Regions from separate parts of the Homo sapiens genome. Here region 2 is linked to region 1. Evidence: fine-mapped expression QTL. A gene starts in region 1. The other region holds a variant in brackets. All regions are shown on one strand. Distances are from middle to middle.

Evidence for each region.
Region 2: its variant is fine-mapped to the expression of LINC02568 in minor salivary gland (GTEx, PIP 0.91).

The regions. Positions count from the first base shown.
Region 1 is chr15:63,387,109-63,392,484 of GRCh38, reverse strand. LINC02568 (long intergenic non-protein coding RNA 2568) reads right to left here and starts at 2,255. Exons shown (of 7, transcript NR_120375.1): 1 at 2,224-2,255.
Region 2 is chr15:63,344,656-63,350,031 of GRCh38, reverse strand. CA12 (carbonic anhydrase 12) reads left to right here. Exons shown (of 11, transcript NM_001218.5): 3 at 3,323-3,502; 4 at 4,413-4,555. Among named protein-coding and RNA genes, the nearest start is that of CA12, 35 kb to the left of the region's middle. RefSeq lists a cis regulatory region at 3,594, an enhancer at 3,510-3,679 and a silencer at 4,435-4,622. The variant A/G (reference allele first, on the strand shown) is at 2,815.

The sequences.
Region 1 (5,376 bases):
AGAGTTTGGAACTAAAGATCACAGCCCATTGACTCTTCAGTCTGAGGGATGGAGTAAGTTAAAGGGACAGAAGTAAATAAAATTGAGAAGGCTGGGCACAGTGGCTTATACCTGTAATCCCAGCACTTTCAGAGGCTGAGGTAGGAGATCTCTTGAGCTCAGGAGATCAAGGCTGCGGTGAGGTATGATCATGCCACTGCACTCTACCCTGGGTAACAGAGTGAGATCCTGTCTTAAAAAAAAAAAAAAGAGAAGAGAGCAAAAGAGAGCCAGGAGTGAGTGGGAGGAGGATGGTTGGCAGCTGCTGGAAGTGGGACAAGGAGTTAAATGTCCTTTGTGTCCAGCTCCCACAACTCCCCCACCTTTCCCTTGGTCTTGATCATGGCTTTTGATCTCTTTTGGGAGCTCCAAGGTGCAGAAGCTTCTTCAGAGAGTCTGCTGATGAAGCACTGTTCAGCATGTGGATCTAGAATGAAGCCTCCTTGACCGCCGCTATGGCAGCTTCTGCTCTTGGCTATGGGCTTGGACCCATTCTAGTGGGCTCCCTTCCCCAGCATGTCTGGCCCTGTGGGTATACTCGCCTCCTGTTATTGTCCCCGTTAAGCCATCAAGCCACTGACTTACCAACAGTCTACCTATTGTCATATGTATCTGGATCCTTCAAGTTGGAGCTTTGCTGCTCTTCTAGGAGTTCCCTGAACTTCTAGAGGAAGTCACTTAAGAAATTTGACTCCCTGTTTTAGATCACTAATCTTTCCGGGCTTCATGACTTCTTGGAACTTGTCTTAAGATTTTATCAATGTTAAAATAATTAAGACTATGTAGAAATGTTGGAAAGTGTTTATAATCCAATGTTAGTTTTTAAAAAAGTAGTATATACAATAGGGTATCTTTTCTCCATAGTAACCAGGTATATTTCTTTGCTGACATGGACAAGAAGAAGGGAACATGTAAGAATGAAGAGTCATTATCTGGTAGGTTGGATTATCACTTTTTTTTTTCTTTTAAAAGTTCCCTGTTAATAACTCTTTATAAAAATCACTTGGCTGAGATGTTTCCCTGTTTCAGTTCAATGTTTAAAGTTATGTTTCCAGGCTGAGTGCAGTGGCTCATGCCTGTAATCCCAACACTTTGGGAGGCCGAGGCAGGTGGATCGCTGGGGGCCAGGAGTTCGAGGCTAGAATTTGAGGCCAGCCAGGCCAACATGGCAAAATCCCCATCTCTACTAAAAATACAAAAATTAGCTGGGCGTGATGGCAAGCACCTGTAATCCTAGCTACTTGGGAGGCTGAGGCATGAGAATCAGTTGAACCTGGGAGGCAGAGGTTGCAGTGAGCTGAGATCGTGCCACTACACTCCAGCCTGGGTGACAGAGCCAGACTCAGACTCAAAAAAAAAAAAAAAAAAGTTCTGTTTCCAGTCTTGGCCAGACATGCTTTGCCCAGCATCAGACTCTGGGTGGAATCTTCACAAAAGCACTATGCTGCTCATCGCCCTGGAAGAGGCCACAGAGTTATCTTTCATTTCCCTGCACCTTCCTTCTTGTTGGGACAATTGCAGCAAGTTAGCACTGCTCCTTCCATAACTTTTCTGTGCCCTTTCCCCCAGTTTTTAGCAGTTCCCTTCTGCTGACGGCTAGTTATATAAGACCTATTATGATGGGACTTCTCTCATTCACTGCCTCTGAATTGACTTCTTTCCTACGAACTGGAATATCTCAGGGGTGATATGAACCCAGGGAGCCTTCTTATCACAGACAGGTCTGATTCCCCCACTAAAAACAAACATCTCTACAGTTACAAGCACCAATACACTTTGTAATTATGGACTATGATGTCGTTCCTAAACGTCTCAAAATAATTTTACAAATATTCACTGGGATTAAGTGGCATAATCCCTATCATAAAAATGGAGTTATGGAGGTATTTTTCCTTCTCCACTGTCCTCAGGGGAAACAGAATTTCTAAAGAGAAGCCAAGTTTCTGGGGTTTGAACTTTCTGATTCTTTGAACATTCTTTAAGAACTCCAACTATATCTTGCTATCATTTCTACTTTCCACAAAATCCTGGACAGTAAAGAAAACAGAGACATGTAAGATCAAAAAGTTTTGCATAGCTGTGTCAAAAAACAGAGATGCTAGCATAAATAATCCAGTTTTAATCACAGTAAAAGGAGCCCCAAACTCTTATTTCAAGTGGGGCAGGCATAAAGAAGTAACTCACCAGCTAAGATTTCTTTATGCGTCTCAGCAGTCTTGCCACGCTGTGTCTTCTTGGGGAAGTGTCTCTAGTTTGCTAGCTGAATTGCCGTGGGTGAGAACTATGAAGCCTTGGCTGACTACCTGCTCTGCCGGCCACCAGATACACCTGAGCCCTTTCTCAGTGCTTGAGAGGAAGTTGGATCCCTGCCAGGGCTGGCTTCTGGCCAGAGAGGCAACTCAGATCAATTGGTCTACTGGGAAGCTTGCTGACTTTCACCTGTCCAAGCTACAAAGCCATCAGTGTTAACTGCACTAGGCTTCCAGCCCACTGAGCTCTTTGTCAGGCACTAGAGCCTAAACAAGGTGGCCTGGCTCAGTCTACAGACTCCAGCTGGAAGAGAAGCACAATTGTGCTGCATGCTCCTAGTACCCTACACCCAGTGGAGATGAATGCAAACTAAAATGTAGGCAACTGGGTGTTGCTTGTCAGTTTTGTTTGGAAGCACCTGAAATAAAGGAGTCAGCTCATGAATTCCTGCAATGGTAGAGAGCTTGAGTGCCCAAGCAAGAGGAAATTACCAATAATTTTAATAGTATGTGGCATCTCTGAGCTCAGGAATACCTTCTAGCTACAAAATTCCAGTGATCAGGCATTTCCTGTGGAAAAGAGGTTCTAAGCCTACTTGTTTAGAAGGCTTCAACTTATTTCAGTAATAAGACTGGGTTTGTTATGACCAAAGTTACATTCTATGAGAGGCCAATGTGTGGGGGAAAGGGATATCTGGAAATCTCTACTCGTTCTTCCCTGAGGGTTCATGGAAGTTGATGGAGTTGCCCAAACCAGGGTTGGAACTTTGGGAGAAGCAGCCCCACTTCATCCAGTAAGGATGTTTCCACAGAGGACAAAGATCATTGACATAGTACTCATTATGTGCCGCCGTGCTAAGTTCTTCATATGCCTAGCTGATTAAATGTATTCCTCCCTTTCTCCCTTTGGGGTATACTTACTCTAGGACCCTCATCTCTATTTTTCTCTTTCTCTTCTTCTTTTTTTTTTTTTGAGATGGAGTTTCACTCTTGTTGCCCAGCTTGGAGTGCAATGGTGTGATCTCAGCTCACTGCAGCCTACACCTCCCGGGTTTAAGCAATTCTCCCATCTCAACTTTCTGAGTAGCTGGGATTACAGGCATGCGCCACCACGCCTGGCTAATTTTTGCATTTTTAGTAGAGATGGGGTTTCACCATGTTGGCCATGCTGGTCTCGAACTCCTGACCTCAGGTGATCCGCCCGCCTCAGCTTCCCAAAGTGCTGGGATTACAGGCATGAGCCACCGTGCCTGGCTGGACTCTCATCCCTTTAACCAGGAAGAAATCAAGATTCAAAGAGGTTGAATGACTGGCCCAGAGTCACACAGGGTGGTGAATGGTGGAGTTTCAAAACCCAGGTTCGTATGATGCCAAAGCTCTGCCCCCTATACCATTCTGCCTGCCTGACTCCGAACGGAAGTTGTCAGATTTGATATTAGCACTACTCACGTCAGGCTGGCACTTGTGAGCTTGCTGGAATGTGGCCTGTGAATACACTATGGTTTAGAAGACGGGTAGGAGAGGACAGTGCTTCAGACTGAGAACAAGAAGAACAGGAAGGATATGGACCAAATCCCTGAGGCTAGAGGAGAGTGGGTTCCCCAGCAGGTGTGAAAAATGAGAAGGCTGTGAGAAACCTTAAGCTATTACAGTCTAACTATATCTCCTAAATGTCTGAGTGTCAGCTAACCATGACATTGTGAATAATGCACCTGGAAAGAGGTGACACTATTGCACCAAGGTTTACTTCACGTAAAATGCTAAGTTTCCCCATGCATAGAAATTTGAATTATTATGATGTTTAAATTAATCACACAGAGTGCTTTATAAAAGTCTCAGTGAAGAGCTGTTATTCCCCACTCAACAGAAGTAGGAGCTGAAGGACTCAGGGATCAAGTAACCAGACAAGAGTCATCATGGTAACTGGTGTCAGGTATGCAGTGAGAATTTACAATCCCTTGTTGGAATCCAGTTTTTATTTTCTTAGATTAGTAAACCAAAGCTGAGATCAAACACACTTCCTTTCTTGTGAAGTCCACTCTTAGGAGTGACATCTTATGTACGACAAATGTCGTTATTTATTTCTTCCCAAAGTGCTCTCACATATACGGCCTCATCCCACTGCCAACCCTGTGTGGAGTTAGACATTCTTATTTCGACTTACAGATTAGAAAACAGAAGCAGAAACACGGCAAGGGACTTGCTGACATTCCACTGCTGGCTCCTGGCAGAGTCAGAAGCCTGGCATTCTTTCCTCCAGGTCACACTGTCCTCCAACTGATCCCGCCTGAAACTGAGCAGGGCAGCGAGGGTTCACACAGGGGTTACGCCTCCAAGCCATCACCGTGAAAGGGAAGACGCAGATGTGAATAAAACTACAAAACTGGCTATATTTTAAAACACAGACATTGGTACCCAGATCAATGGGTCTATGTGAGTCTTGGCCTAGAGGTTCCCTCAGCCACTGCCCAGTCAAAGGATACAATGTGGACTTTTCCTTCCTTCTTCCCTCCTTCCTCCCTCTTCTCCCTTCCTCCCCCTTCCCTCTCTGCCTCTGTCTTGTCTGGCCTTCCTAAGTCAAAGCAAACCTCGTTAATGTAACAGAAGAGCTATTTGGTATGGCTCACATTCTCCTTCCTTTGCTTGAGACCTACGTCGATTCAAAGCTCTGAGCTCTTCTTTTGGCAAATGTTCTATCCACTGATCACAGAGTATGATACAGGGTCCCTTGGTCCCTCAGACACAGCCATATCCCATGCTGAGCATTATTTGATTGCTACAATCGGTACACGTGCCTCTGATCAACAAACAAACGATCACAGCATCTAGAAAATTGGAGAACCGTAGGCCAGGCATGGTGGCTCATGCTTGTAATCCCAGCACTTTCAGAGGCTGAGGTAGGCAGATCACTTCAGGCCAGGAGTTCAAGACCAGCCTGGCCAACATAGTAAAACCCCATCTCTACCAAAAATACAAAAATTAGTCAGGTGTGGTGGCACACGCCTGTAGTCCCAGCTACTCAGGAGGCTGAGGTAGGAGAATCACTTCAACCTGGGAGGCGGAGGTTGCAGTGAGCAGAGATCACACC
Region 2 (5,376 bases), 42 kb after region 1:
ACAGAAACCATTTGCACACAGGTAAGCTAGAAAGCTAGGAGGGTACATTTTGAACCTGAGCAAGTGATCTCATTTTTCCTCCTCTTTTTTGAGGAGAAGAAATACATGAGGGAATTAAGGTGGGTGCACGTTCCCTGGGAAAGGAACAAGCATGAAACAGGTGTTGAGAGTTCAGCTTAGTAAACATGTGAGGGCCCACTCTGTGCCAGGCACTGTGGGAAGTGCAGCGATGGATGAGCCGTGGTCCTTGTCTTCAAGGACAGCGTGGGGAAGCCAGGAAATTCCAGGTGCACAAAATCTCCTGGATAAATACTGAAGGACACATAAGTCCTGTGACCCAAGCAAAGTAACTGTTACTTAGCCAAAGTCAAACTTCCGGCAAATCTCTTAAATCTCTATTTTTCACCCATAAAATGGTGCAATTCTGCCTTGCTTACCCCGTAAGGTTATAGAGTTATAAGGATCAAAGCTACTACAATATAATAACAATGAGGAGGAGGAGGAGGAGGCGAAGACAAGGCTTTCTTGACCTTGCTGACCTACAGACCTGTGACTGGTGCCCAAGGACGAACTCCGCTGTGGATGGCAGCCAGGACCAGGGCAGGTTCCTGATGCAGATGGCTGTCTGATCCCAGCCAGTCCTGGAGCACCGGTGCCCTGTGCCCTCATTCCCGAAGCTGGTTCCCCTGGGCACCTTGTCACATGCCCAGTAGCTGCCTTGACATGAGCAACCTTTCTGACTCATTCAAATTTGCCTGACAGATGGAGAAGGTGCTTAGTCCTAGTATTCTTAATAAATATCAGAGCTTAAGAGCCAGAAGGAACCTTCCAGAACATAGCTTCCACACACATCCCATCCCCACCACTACGCCCACCACCCCCACCATTTGCACGAAGGGCAATGGAGGCTCCAGCAGGGAACATAACCCACTGAAGTGTTGGGACAGCTGATGCTGGAATCTCATTCTCTGGACTCCCCTGGTCCAACATAGCTGCTTCTCTTTCCAAGACAGGTTTTGCCAACACCAACTCTACTGCCTTTAATATCCTTAGTCTTTCCTGCCCCCCAAATACCTTATTTGGTCCTAACTTCCAATAAAGCGTATTTAGAGCAAGAGAAAAAGGAAACATTCCCCAAGTCACATTTTCCCAAGCCCTCTGTTCTTTTTCACTCTTTGGGAAAATGTTTCCTAAATGCCCATGGGGGCACGTGACCCTACTTATAATATGGGTTCACAGAGACGAAGATGAGGGGTCCCTATCTTCACGAGGCTCTCGTTTAGCTATCAGTAAAATGCCCTCTTGATGAAACCTTTTTGAACCTCCACTGTGGGAAAAGAAAACCCTTCTAATCCAGTTCCCTTTAGTCATGTGTGCAAAGAGAAAGCTTCTCAATGATGCATCTCTTTACTTCCTGAGTTTTTTGCATTCATGCCTGGCTGGCAGCTTCCGCCCTGCTGGCTGTGGGCCCAGGCAGTATTGTGAGCACAGAAAAGGCTGGCAGCCTCACTTAGGGAGTCTTACCCTGTGCTGTGTCTCTTCCTGACCCTGGGGTTCTACATGAGGCCTCACGGTTGCTTCATTCTGCTCCCCGCTGCCCCTAAAGCATTCGGTTTGGCCCCCAGCTGAATAATTGTCTTACTCCAGTTTGGCCCTGGAGTGCCTGCTTTGATATCCTCCAGCCTCCCTCTTCCCTAGTCACCATCTTGGTGTAGTTGAGTTATTTTGAGGCCTTGAAAATAAGAATAGTAGAGCTCAGCGGAGACTCTGCCATGCCCAAGTGAGAAGACTGGTGTCCAGTGAAAGGTTGGACTGGAGATTCTGCAATTCCGTCATGCTGTAACATTTCTGAAAATGCATAGCCTAAGGTTGACAGCCTGAAAAATCAGTAGGGTTCCGATGTGTGTGTCCGGACCTAGAAGTAAGAACTAACTAAGCCTGGGACCAACGCCTCATAGCATTTGAAATGAACCTGGGTACCAAGTATCACTTCGGATTCTTCCCACTCTCAGATACGGTCCCCTAGTTAGAGAGCACGATGTAGGGGGTTGGGATTCTGTGGGGCCAATATAACATTTACACCCTTGTGAAACAGTGCAGGGGTCTACAGAAGAATTCCCAGAAGAGGTGGTGTTCCTTTCCCCTTTTCTCTATTTACCCACCTTCCTTGTGTTGAAATACTGATGAACGGACCCCCAGATGGCAAAGCTTGATCCCCAGCTCTGATAGAGCCCACAGGACACCCTGGGTCTACCCTAACGAGCCATGACATGCCAATTCTTTGCTTTTCTGGAGAAACCTTGGCCTGAAAGTCTGTTTAATTACCGTGGAGATAATCTTTTAAACATAGATTTACATTCTTTAAAGACTTTTTCCCTGTGGGAGTAGGAAAGTTCATCTGCACATAGCATGTTTATTTTCATTTCCAGGGGAGGAACTGCTATCTGGTAGTTAGCAAGAAGCTTGAGCCCTGGAGGAATTTCTTTTTTTAAAGTCTGTTCCTCTTCACTGATAGTGTGTCAATTATATTGTAATAATTAGTTTATAGTGTGGTCATATTTTTTTCCAGCTTAAACTCTGCACTTCACTCTGTGATTCCAGGCCTATAATTATTTAACATTTGTCAATCATCCCTATCAGATTGGGTTCTATAGTTACTCTAAATGTGGGTATCAAGAGTCAATGTCCTCAGGGGTTTCTCTTCAGGAAGGTCATACTTGCAAAGCCAGCAGCCACAAAGACCTATTTAGGTTGGTGCAAAAGCAGTTGTGGTTTTTGCCTGAAAGGAATGGCAAAAACCGCAATTATTTTTGC[A/G]CCAAGATAATACTTGGCACTGTGGTCAGTAAGACACTAATTTTTCCCACCTGGGGTGGCCCCGCAGATTTGCTAAATTCTTCCCCGCTAGAATGCCAGCTTGGATGAGCAGGGGCTCTATTGTATTCAACCTGGCAGCCCCAAGACCCAGAGTAATTCCTGGCTCATAATAGGTACTGGCTAAGCAGATGCTGAATTGCTGAAAGTCAACAGGTCTTGACGTGTGTGTCAAACAGGAACAATGTACAAAATAAAGCAGAGTTCGGTGGCCTTCTGGCTCTGGCCTGTGCAGCCCTAGTCCTTCTTTCCCCACATCACTTAAGAGCAGGTGGTCCTGAGTGGTTGCTGGACCTGATTCTGGAGGCCAAGACTCTGAGCCTTGAAGATTTACCTCCGGGGATTCAGAAAAGAGGAGAAAAGGAGTAATTGTATTGAACAGAGAATTAGAAGATAAGGAAAATCCCTTTGTGAGAAACTCTAAATCTTGAGCATGGATCTCTGTGTCCAGGTCCTGATGGGGAGAATAGCTGGTCCAAGAAGTACCCGTCGTGTGGGGGCCTGCTGCAGTCCCCCATAGACCTGCACAGTGACATCCTCCAGTATGACGCCAGCCTCACGCCCCTCGAGTTCCAAGGCTACAATCTGTCTGCCAACAAGCAGTTTCTCCTGACCAACAATGGCCATTCAGGTGAGGGAGAGGCCTTGGAGACCTGAGGGGTATGTCTGAGTCTCCCTCAGCTGCCAGGCCTGTCCTTTTCCATCTGGCAGGGAGGTGTTCCGTGGAAGCATCCAGGAGGAGGGGTGGGGCGGGGCGGGGGTGTCTTTGAGAGATTCCAGGAGCACTCTCTCCAGGGGATGCTGGAGGCTCTGGGCTCTGAGGATCCTGCCAGGGCCGCACTTCCCAGAAGAAGCACATCTCTCAGGATGGGGCAGGAGACCGGCCTGAGCACTGTAGTTCATTGGCTGTGCAGCTGGAGTGAATTCTGGACCATAAACGATTCAAGGAACCACACAGTTTGGCGGGGGGTGCCCAGGCTTTGGAGTCAGACCAACCTGGATTTGAACTCTGGCTTGACTGCTTACGAGCCATGAGAATCTAGGTGAGAATTTTAGTCTCCTTGAGCTTCCATCTGGAAATGGACATATTGATGGATACCGTGAAGACTGGAGATTATGTACGTTGGGGTCTGGCATACAGAGTGAAGTAAATGCTTCATAAATAGCAGTTATCGTTGCTGTTGCTATATAATTCTAAAGCTTGGAAGGTACTTCACTAAAGGTGTCTGATCCATCAATATGTAAATAAACACCCATCCGTTGGTCTAGTGTTAGCGTTTCTGGCATCACTTTCCAAGGTGAACCAAGAAGGTGCTGGTGCCACTGGAGTTGCTTTGGGGAAAAGGGAACATTCTCAGGGAAAGAGCCCAGGTGTCTGACCTTTAGGCTGCATCTCTGCTCCGCACCTCACTCCATCCACCTGCCTCTCTCTGGGCTCCAGGGGGTGGCAGCAGGGGTGGAGGGAGCATTGCCTACCTGACTGCTCTCTGGCAGTGCACAGCTGGCCGGGGCTCTGAAGGCTGCTCCTCCACTCCCCGCAGTGAAGCTGAACCTGCCCTCGGACATGCACATCCAGGGCCTCCAGTCTCGCTACAGTGCCACGCAGCTGCACCTGCACTGGGGGAACCCGAATGACCCGCACGGCTCTGAGCACACCGTCAGCGGACAGCACTTCGCCGCCGAGGTAAGTAGGGCTGCCAGTCTGGCAGAGGCTGCTCTGCAGTGGGTGGTGTGGCACCTTCTCGACCTGGCTGCTGTGCAGATAACACCAGAGCATGGGACAGGCTGCCTTCAGGCTCTCTGCCCCACCTCTGGCCCTGGCACAAGGGGCGCAGCCACTCCACTAGCCTGTAGCTCATCTGCACTGTCCTGGTCCCTTTCTTCTCCTGAACATGCTAAGTTTGTCCCTGTGTCTTTTACTGAGTGATGCTGCTGGGGAGGCAGTATTCCCAGGGTGGCCCAGTGGGACATACATGCCCTTCTTTTAGACATTGCCTTCCTATCTGTGCAGATAAAAATCTCCTGCTGACTCACACTGGGCTCACTGCTCCCCCAAACTTCTCAGCCTTTCTTCATATGTCATGCTGTTTGCATCATTTTGATGCTATCTTTCCCTCTCTGGGCATGGGTTGTGTTTAGAACATGGGGACATGGGTCTAGGGCCACCCTTCTACCTGGCCACAAGTCTAGGGGTACCTGGCAGTCTAATGTGCAGGGCATCACGGCAAGCAGACTCACTAGGGACAAGATGTCAGCCAGCACAGCATCGTGTCATGTTGCCTTGAGAAGCTACTCCGAAATGCCAAAAGAAAATTAGAAGACGGGCAGAGCATTTGTCCTATGCAATTGCAGGATGGGGTGGGGCAAGGAGGGGGTTGAGATGCTCCATTTTGGCACTCCAATAGCCCTGAACTGGGGGTGTGGCTCTGAATATTTACAGGGAAATACAAGCAGATAAATGCTGCTGACTGATCAGCCAGGGGAGTCCGTGGTAAATAGAGACCA